2 separate regions of the Homo sapiens genome follow, and region 1 is linked to region 2. Evidence: fine-mapped expression QTL. A gene starts in region 2. The other region holds a variant in brackets. All regions are shown on one strand. Distances are from middle to middle. Region 1 overlaps PDLIM5 (PDZ and LIM domain 5). Region 2 holds the start of PDLIM5 (PDZ and LIM domain 5).

The links. PIP is the estimated chance that this variant, and not a neighbour inherited with it, causes the effect.
Region 1: its variant is fine-mapped to the expression of PDLIM5 in whole blood (INTERVAL, PIP 0.98).

What each region holds. Positions count from the first base shown.
Region 1 is chr4:94,620,782-94,626,160 of GRCh38, forward strand. The region is part of intron 8 of PDLIM5 (PDZ and LIM domain 5); the gene reads left to right. Among named protein-coding and RNA genes, the nearest start is that of BMPR1B-DT, 130 kb to the right of the region's middle. The variant A/G (reference allele first, on the strand shown) is at 2,786.
Region 2 is chr4:94,448,692-94,454,070 of GRCh38, forward strand. It overlaps PDLIM5 (PDZ and LIM domain 5), which reads left to right and starts at 3,251. Exons shown (of 13, transcript NM_006457.5): 1 at 3,251-3,304. RefSeq lists silencers at 2,901-3,320, 3,491-3,750.

The sequences.
Region 1 (5,379 bases), 170 kb after region 2:
GCACAGTGACTCACGCCTATAATCCCAGCACTTTGGGAGGCTGAGGCGGGCGGATCACGAGGTCAGGAGATCGAGACCATCCTGGAGATCAAGATCACCTGATGGGTAAAACCCTGTCTCTACTAAAAATAAAAGAAAAGTTAGCCAGGCGTGGTGGTGGGCACCTATAGTCCTAGCTACTCAGGAGGCTGAGGCAGGAGAATCACTTGAACCCAGGAGGCGAAGGTTGCAGTGAGCCAAGATGGTGCCACTACACTCCAGCCTGGGTGGCAGAGTGAGACTCTGTCTCAAAAAAAAAAAAAAAAAAAAAAAAAAAAGCTAGAAGTATTTCTATTGTGTTGGAAAGAGGACAGGCCATGGCATATGAGTTAGACTATTTTAGAGGAAAGACTTTCATTACTTCTAAAAACTTAAAACATTTAGTCTAATGTTATTAGTCTCTGAAATTTCTGGACTACTAAAAAACACTTAGTCTAATATTATTAGTCTCTGAAATTTCTGGACTATTAACTGACTTACCATGATCTATTCTTTTGGGGAAAAAATGCTAAGCTCAGCCCCATACATTTTTGAGTTATTTCTATTTATTTAAAGCCTATGTATGATGATGAAGATTTTCTGTAATTACTTTGTGCATTTGAATACAGAAAGTAATTTTCAGAAAAATGCTATTGGTATGGTAATTGGAAGCTAACAGGAGAATGTTTTGTAAAAAGCAACGAAAAGACTAAATTTCTGAGGTAGAAACCGAAGAGAAGGCACAAAGTATATGGACAGTGGAGGACAGAAAGTTTATATACGGCCTTTGGAAGTTCAGAAGTTTATGGTTAAAGTACTGCTCTGCCTTTTAAGTGGAAAGAAAAAGTTCATTTTTTTGAACTCTTGGCGAATATAGTACAGCAAAATTACCACAAGAGGGCGATGGAGTGCTTTCTCCAAGTCTAATGAAATTTGTGAGAATAATCAAAGTAGGCCAATATTAGCAATTATAATAATGAGTCACATGGTTAGTGTTTAAAACATTATGCTTTTTCTAGAAAATATAAATGAATTTTATATGAGCAAAACTACAATATAAAACATTATACATTATATAACATTATAAAACAAAATTATAAAAAGAATGTTTTCCTGTTGTGAAGTCACAGTTGAATTACATCATAATTCTTAGCTCAATTTTGAAAATATTTACTGAGTTCTTATTTATCTTGCTCCAGGTGCTATAAACAGGCATTTATTCAGTTATTACGTTGTGGCAAAGTTAACTTATTTTGTACTATTTTGGAAAATTTAAAAATAAAAACAAAATTCCCAGCCACTCAAATTCTTCTGCCCTACACAATGGTATACCATAGTTTAAAGACAATAACAACAACAAAATCATCTCAGAATGTACTCTTAGTCTTAGATAAATAGTTTCAAAAGCTTCCTGATGCAAATGAAAAAGTCTTTTGATTTAGAAGGTGATAGCGGATTCATCATGTGTTTATGCGTTCCTGTTTAAATTATGGATAGCAGCTTAGGTAAATTTAGTTCATTAGATACAAATGTATGTATAAAATATTACTATCTTACAAATGTAATGAAATGTTTTTCACAAATTCAGTCATAAAGTCATGAAGAGCCTTTCTGTGTTGGAACACATCAGTTTTCTAATTTTAGTTTAATCATATACAAAATGAGAATGAATAATTCATTAGAATATAAGCAATGCTTTGATAGATCTGGACCCGTTGTTCATTGAGCCAGTTTTCTGACTGGTGGTGGCCCCCCAAAATAGAAATGCCTGCCCTTTGCAGGTATGAATTTCAGAAGGTTAGCATTTTTGTGAGCCTTTTCCCTCTCTCCCTCCCTCCTTCCCTCCCTCTCTCCCTCCCTCCCTCCTTCTCACCTTTCCCTCCTTCCTTCCCTTCCTCCCTCACTCTGTCGCCCAGGCTGGAGTACAGTGGCACAATCTCGGCTCACTGCAACCTCCACCTCCCAGGTTCAAGTGATTCTCCTGCCTTAGCCTCCTGAGTAGCTGGGACTACAGGTGCCTGCCACCACACCCAGCTAATTTTTGTATTTTTAATAGAGACGGGGTTTCACCATGTTGGCCAGGATGGTCTCAATCTCCTGACCTCGTGACCCACCCACCCCGGCCTCCCAAAGTGCTGGGATTACAGGCATAAGCCACCACGCCCGGCCTCCATTTCTTTAACTATTAAAATAAAGACCTTAAAAGCTTCTCCTATAGCATTCTTGTGAAATCAAATGATATAACTAGGCTGCAGATACTTAGAGGATACTCAGAGGTTAACTTTCTATGCCTTTATTCCTTTTCTTGATGGCATTAATAACTTACATTGTTACTGTCCAAAAACTGGTTCTCATGTGATGTCCCTGCTTGAAAATGTTTGGGGCTGTCTGCTGCTGGTCAAAATGCTTAGCTTCTTAACAGAATTTTTGGTCCCCTTGCAATCTCAGGCCAACCTTCTTCTCCAGCTTCATTTTATAACACTGTTCCCTATAGTCCACTCACACTGAAGTTCATGAGTTCATATCATTCCTTGGCACACACTTTTCTGCTTTGTACAAGCTGCTCCTTTTATTTGAAATGCTTTTCCATCCCTTCTACTCCTGACAAACTTCTCTTTACCTTTTAAGACCAGCTTGTTCCCCCTTTGTGAAGCTTTCTTGAGCCCTCTTGTTACCTGTTCTTTTTCAATACTCCTACAAAATTTCAATAATGTCTTTGTTATAGCATTCATCCTGTTCATTTTAATTGTTTACATAGGTGTCTTTT[A/G]CGACTGTTTTTAGATTCCTTTGAGGACAGGGACCAAGTCATACTGATCTGTTTTACAGCATCTAAACAATGCCTGGCACAGTTTATAGGCCCTCAGTAAATGTCCCCGAGAAAGTGAGTGGGTAGAGAAGTCAGTTGTCTTATTTAGGACATCATACGATCTGAAGGATGCAGAATTCATCTGCCAGGATATTGTTCTGTCCTCCTGCCAAACTTGAAATTCCCACAACAGTCATTGAAAAGGTGGGAGCACTGTCTGCCAAAGGCTGCTATTAGAAAATAAGCATGTTGCTAAGGAGAAGGGAGCTCCACTCTTCTTGAAGCATTTAACTCTCTTCAGAATTAAGATCGTGAACATGAGCAGTACCATAACTAGTAATACATTATTTATTTTTGGAAATTAAAAAATAATAACAGTTGTAAAGCCCCATGATAGGAATTTTTTTTTCTCAAAAGTATGAGGGCTAGGCACTGTGGCTCACACCTGTAATCCCAATAGTGTGGGAGTTAAGGCAGGAGGATTGCTGGAGGTCAGGGGTTTGAGACCAGCCTGGGCAACATAGCGGGACCCCCATCTCCACAAATTAAAAAAAAAAAAGAAGTTGGCTGGGCATGGTGGTGCACGCCTATGGTCCCAGCTGCTCGGGAGGCTGAGATGGGAAGATCTCTTGAGCCTGGGAGGCGGAGGTTGCAGTGAGCCAGGATTGTGCCACTGCACTCCAACCTGGGTGACAGAGCTAGACCCCCATCTAAAAAAAATGTGATAATTTACTGCATATAAGGAACCAAGCAGTGGAATGCAGAGGAAATATTAGGAATGTGGGATCGCCCATTTTGTCATTGTGGACAAATTAGCTCGGATGCAAAACACCAGTATATAATATAGAAATCATCAAAAAGGTGCAAAGAAGAGTCAAATCAAACTATGAGTCCCAGTTCAGAGGCATGGAGGTGTGGATCAGTGGAAAGGGAAGAAAAAGACTTAAAGTTCTGAGGATACAATCTTGAGGTAAAATATGTATTTGTTTATAGTGAAGTCCTATTTTATGCAGGAACAATATTTTAATGTTTGTGCCTAAAACAAAATAGCATGTAGTCAACGACCCTTGAACATTTTTAGGAAGAGGCCGATTTGGAGAGGGAGCAACATATGCAAAAACTGAGAGAATTTGGCTTCGGGTAGGAAAGACAAGTAGTTCAGTATGTTTAAGACTGTCTAGTGGCCCAGAGAGAAGGTTGGCTGCATTAATGGGGGTTTTGAATGTAAGAGTGTGGACTTGATGCTGAAAGGAAGCTATTAAAACATTTATAAGCCGGAAGTGGCAAAATCAGACTTGCATTATTAAAAGATTATTATAGCATTAATGTGTTTAAAAGATCATCATGACTTCATTGTAGAGATTAAGGTTGGAGACCTGGAGACCATTTAAGAAGTTATTCAGGTAATCCAATCTGGAGATAGATAATGAATATTGCCCTGGGCAGTGGCAGTGTTTTGGAGAGAATTCCCTGGGCAGGGTGACTGCAGGGTATTTACACTTTAACCTAACTGGGCTGCTGGTTTTAACCATTGCCCTCTCTGGGAACTTGACTCCCTATAGAGTACCTATGTATCCTCTGTTAAAACACCCGTGGAGGATTGTATTCAGTTTATAGCATATTAGAATGCTACCTTCATACTTTCTTTAATTGTGTGTACACACAACTCCCAGTTGAGCCCTGTTTACTCTCATGTCCCTGGTGTTGACAAGAAATTAGTGGATATTATTAAACGTGTCCATGGAGGCAGGCATTCTACTGAGGAAAATAAAAACATATATTGATATTAGTTGATATGATATTATGGCGATATACTCAAGGCAGTAGTATTTTATCATTTAATATTAGACTTTTTTTTTTTTTTTGAGACAGAGTCTCTCTGTGTTGCCCAGGCTGGAGTGCAGTGGCGCTATTTAGGCTCACTGCAAGCTCCACCTCCCAGGTTCACGCCATTCTCCTGCCTCAGCCCCCCAAGTAGCTGGGACTACAGGCGCCCGCCACCATGCCCGGCTAATGTTTTTGTATTTTTAGTAGAGACGGGGTTTCACCGTGTTAGCCAGGATGGTCTCGATCTCCTGACCTTGTGATCTGCCCGCCTCGGCCTCCCAAAGTGCTGGGATTACAGACGTGAGCCACTGCGCCCGGCCAATATTAGACATTCTTAACCTCTGATAGTCCGTATTGAACAGATAACAGTTTCTCTATGCTCTTGTTGAGGCACCATTCCCTTTATGTGAATTAGGTGATATGTATATAAGCTTTATCTTAGTGATTTGCTTTTCTCTGTGAGACAGTTTGGATATGTAGTAAAGACAAAGGCTCTTAATTGACAAGAATGTAAAAACAAAAGTTTATGATTCTTTTTTAGAATATAAGTTGTTTTGTGTTTTGAAGAAGCATGATACAAGTAAGCTATACATATAAAAGTTGTGACCATTTGAAGGTCTTTTGGGGACAGTATAAATTTCTTTTGATCAAACGAAACGGGAAAAAACACAAACTTGCTTTTCAAAATGAATAGTTAATTTTTGCTTCTGTTGTACCCCATCTGAGGA
Region 2 (5,379 bases):
TTGTTTTTTATGATACACAAATAAATCTAATCAATTGGTTAGGAAAGTTTTCATATGGCTACCATTTATTTAATCCTTACTTGGTGCGAAGCATGCTGTGTAATGTTTTATATATATTATCTCTATTCCTCATGATAATCTCACAAGGTTATTTACAATGATCATTTCCTTTAAGATGAGGAAACAGATAAGTTGCTACCATCTGGAATGCATGGTTCTTAACTGAGCACAGTGCACATTAAACCGGAGACATAGCACTATCTCTAGGGAAGTAGTTTTTAAGCACTGCAGTTTAATAATTACCTGGAGGTGGGGAGGGAGTGTTTGTTAAAAAGATTCCAAGGGCTCACCTACAAGGATTCTGAGTCCAGAGGGGATCCAGGAAAATGCAATTTTAACAAGCTATCCGTGTCATTTTGATGCAATCGGTCCTTTTTAGGACACTTGGATAAATATCAGTCTATGCAAGACAACTTAATTTGGTTAATTTACTCTGTAGCCCAGGATTTAAACTGCAGTAGTAGGAGGAGGTTCAGAGACAGGCTAGCAATTATGGGGTAAAGTGGAATTTGCATAAGTAAGCAACAGTCTGCCCATTCTCAACTCTTCCTCATCACCTCAAGAAGCTTATCCTCTAGTGATAACTCCATAGGCTATCTGCAGTTGATGTCTTTAAATTAATCTTTGTTGATCCAGGATCAATTTAACTGTATCAACAGCAAACAGATGAGAAGGGGCAGAGTTGGGACTCCTAGAGGTTAACTCGAGCCATGGCCCTGTGGAACTGGCAGAAGCTGTAATTGCTTGCGACCTATTATCTATAAATGAGGATGACATTCATTTTATAAAGTTCTTGTAAGGACTACCACACTGCATAGCACATGGTAGGTATTTGCTAATGGTAGCTATTGTTATTTTTTTTTTATTTTTGGGTGAGATGTCAAACATGATAACATATATTAGACTCTCTAAACCAGCTTTCACACTAGGAAACACTTTCCCCCAAAGCCATCTTTTGAAAAATGTGGTGAAAGCTATGGACTGGTGCTGTCCAATGAAAATATAATGTGAAGCACATATGTAATTTTATTTATTTATTTTTTTAGAAACAGGGTCTTCCTTTGTCACCCAGGCTGGAGTGCAAAGACAAGATCATAGTTCACTGCAGCCTCGAACTTCTGGGCTCAGCAATACAAATAGCTGGGACCTGGGACTACAGGCACACTACACGACGCCCAGCTAATTTTTTGGATTTTTTTAGAGATGGGTCTTGCTATGTTGCCTAGGTTAACCTCAAACTCCTGCCCTCAAGCCATCTTCTCACCTCAGCCTCCCAAGTGCTAGGATTATAGGTGTCAGCCACTGCACCCTGCTCACGTAAGTAATTTTAAATTATCTAGTGGCCACATTTTTTTTAAAAAGTGAAATTAATTTTAATCAAATATTATTATTATTACTCTTTTTTTTTTGGTGCGGAGTCTTGCTCTGTCGCCCAGGCTGGAGGGCAGTGGCATGGTCTCGGCTCACTGCAACCTCTACCTCCCGGGTTCAAGTGATTCTCCTGCCTCAGCCTCCCAAGTAGCTGGGATAACAGGCATGCGCCACCACACCCGGCTAATTTTTGTATTTTTAGTAGAGACGGGGTTTCGCCATGTTGGCCAGGCTGATCTTGAACTACTGACCTCAGGTGACCCACCCGCTTCAGCCTCCCAAAGTGCTGGGATTATAGGCGTGAGCCGTCGCGCCCGGCCATAATCATGTATCATTTAACAAAACATAAAATATGATGATTTCAGCATATAATCAATATAAAAATTATTGAGGCATTTTACATTATTTTTTCATACCAAGTCGTCGAAATCCAGTGTGCATTTTACACTTCCAACGCATTTCAATTTGGGCATTATATTTTCAACTTTAGTCCTTAAATGTAGTGCTTAAAAGAAATGTTAACGACCTGGCGCGGTGGCTCATGCCCGTAATCCCAGCACTTTGCGGGGCCGAGGCGGGTTGGTCACCTGAGGTCAGGAGTTCGAGATCAGGCTGGCCAACATGGTGAAACCCCATCTCTACTAAAAATACAAAAAATTAGCCGGGCGTGGTGGCGCACGCCTGTAATCCCAGCTACTCAGGAGGCTGAGGCAGGGGAATCGCTTGAACCCGGGAGGTGGAGGTTGCAGTGAGCCGAGATTGCACCACTGATCCCAGCCTGGGAGACAGAGCAAGAATCCGTCTCAAAGAAAAAAAAAGTAAAGAAATGTTATCCTGCTTCAGTTTTAAATGTTAAATTATTTAAAATTACGTAAAACAAAAAATTCATGGTCTCAGTTACAGTAGCCACATTTCAACTGTTCGATAGCCACATGTGGCCAGTGGCTACCGTTAGGGAAAGAGCAGCTTTGGATCTTCGCCTTTGGAATTTTGCTTGCACTTCTGGGGGCCGGGGAGCTCACGGACCTCATGAAGTTCATCCTTGCTTTATATGCTCCTTGGTTAAGAATTGTCCTTTTCACGTTTTATAAGCCAATTCACAGTGTAACAGTCTAGTTACTTTCCGTATGTTCAGTGAACATTATTCACGTTTTCTTATGAATAAATTCCTCGGGCGTATCAAGCAACCCTATAGAAGGCTGGAAAGTGGACTATTGATTTGGATTTAGAAAAATAAACTGAAGATACAGTGGTTGAATCACTTTTGGCCGCTTTTATGTATCACTGTCTTCTGGTGTGATGGACAGGGTTAACTTCTGTTAGGGTTACTGGTTTTCACCTTCCTGACAGGTAAACTTCTGGGTCTGCACTTTTCAGAGCATGTAAAGCTCTTTCAAAAAAAAAAACGCAGGCAGTAACCGCTGAACTTGCATAGATAGAGATTTATCCAAAGTACCCTTCTATTTTTAGGCAGAGCAACTGCTTGCCAATTTAAATTTCTGGAGAGAAAAATGCACCCACTACAAAACGGACGAGCGGAGGGTTAGACCTTTGCCAGGTAGCGCTCAAAATCCGCTAAGACTACTCCCACCGAAACTCGGTAGCGCAGTTGTCTTTCCGCAGCTGCTTCAGCCAGCCCCAGCAAGCCCGAGCGCCCGGCGCCGCCGCCACCTTCCCCGCCCCTGCGCGGCGCGGCTGGGACTGGCCCAGAGGCGTGGCCGGGAGCGGAGGGGCGTGTCCTGGGTCGGGGGTGGGGCGAGGGAGAGCCAGGAGGCGGAAGTTCCCGCGGGCGGTGGGGACGGCGCCCTCACCGCGAGTCACTTGTCAGCCCTTGTCTGAGGCGGAGGCAGCCCCGCGCCGCGCCGGACCCGAGGTGAGTGGCGGCCGGCCGGCGATGCGCCTCTCGGATCTCCGGTGGGAGAAGGGAAAGAACCGGCCGCTGTGCGCCGAACGCGAGAAGGGAAGCCCGGTTGGGGACGAGGAGGGGGCGCTCCTCGGGCAGGGATGGCTCCTCAGGTGCTTTCTGGGCGCGGAGCGGCGGAGGTGGGAGAGCAGCTTGGGAAAAGGAGCGCCCGGAAAAGGGCAGCGCTGGAGTCCGCATGAGGCCAGAGGGCGAGCCCTGGGGTCCCCGCAGCCCGGGCCGACCGGGACCAGCGTAGCGGAGACGGGGACGCGGGAGGGCGCCCGGAGGTGGCGAGGGCCGGCAGGGACGGGCACTGCCGCTCCCACCCACCCGGCTGCCGGCGTCGCCCGGCACCACCGTGGTGTGGTGTCTGAGTGCCCAGTCCTGCGCCAGTCTCTTGGAGGGTAGGAAGCGGGACTCAAAGGAAAAGGCGCGTTAGTTTTTCTTTGCTCCCAGGCTACTGAGAAGCATTTATTTCTCCCCCAGATATTTACAGTTTTGTGTAACCTGTTTGGGGAAAACTTCTGCGCGTCCAGAAATAAAGCTCGTTTAAGAAACACATTTGTCATGAACACGAGATTTGTTAACACTTGAGTACTTGTTGGGGCTTTTGTAAGACTGTGCCTTCGGTGCGTTTTACAATAAGTGGAAAAAGGAAGGGCGTGTGGACAGGGCAGAGCTTGGAAGGAAAATTCGTGGCGGCGCTGGGCAGGGCAGATTTAGGGTGTGATCGCCAGATCCTATCCCAAGTCCGCCTTCCTGACGGGGAGGACGTCTGAACCCGCCTGCCACGGAAACGGCCCGTTCGGTAGCCTTATTTGGCCAACAAGGCTAGGCGCGAATCCCTCCTGGAAAACTGTCCTGTCGGCTGCTTTCATCCTGTGCCTGTGGCTTTAGTTCTTCAGCTCTACCTACATTCTCTCTCCATTGCGGGGAAAGAGAATCTCAAGATATTTCTCTTTAATTTCAGGCCTTTTTTTTTGTCACTCTGTGTAGTTCATCTTGAGTTCTCCTTTCTCCCCTCTCACCCACTAATGAAGCTGAGATACAAGTGTGGGAAATACCAAGCTTCCTTCCCTAGTACTAGAGCAAAGACATTGTTTAGACTTTCCCTAAAAGAAAATCCATAACTCTACAGAAATTCCAACCTTTTCGACGTGTTTGAAAGAGTATGCTGCTATTTCCTGCCTGCTTGGTATTTGAGGAAGGGCTTGGGCACTAATAACCAGATGGAGGAGTCTTGGAAAGGCCAATAAAAATATTGCCATTGCTTGGGGCAGAGACTGTTTTAAGGCAGATGAATTCCAAATGAAGCTAGCAGAAGAAGCATCTAGAAATGAACGGACAGTGACTAGAAATGAAATGACACTGGTTTTGTAGTGTGGCTGTGACCTTGCCAGTGCTAGGAATTTTAATAACAAATGAGAGAAGTTAGGAAGGGAATCCCCAAGTAAAGGGAAGTTGCAAGTACATGGGTTGATAATCTAAATGAAATACATTTTCTTGTAGGGAAGAATGGGGCCAGAGGAAGTTGAGCCCAACTTTCATATTATTCCCCAGACACAAGTTAAAGATTAATAAAGGAGGGCAGGCTGCCTGTGAAATATCAGTTGGCTTTACACGATTCTGATTTGTATCGTGTCAATATCAGGACAGTCCTTCTATTAGTTTTCTGAAAATCTCCTCCTTTTATAGCGGGAAAGCAATTGAATTATGTGTGGCTCGTTATTAGCTTCCCACTAGTAGTTTTTCACCTATATATACAGTTTGACTTCCGGCTTGGCCTTTGGATCTTTTTTAGTGCTCTGTGCCTATTACTTCATTACTGAAGTAATGTGTTATTGCCTTGTAGTTCAGTATACTACCACGCCAGTAGAAAAGCTGTTTCGGTTTCTGATACAATTTTCTGTAATTTTTATTTTCCCTGATATAATTTTTCTTTAAAAACCAGGCTTATTTGAATGTTTTGCCCCATTTTCCCTTTATGAGAAGAAGGAATGTTTGCTTTAAATATACCTATGGCTCAAATATCTATATCTGCAACT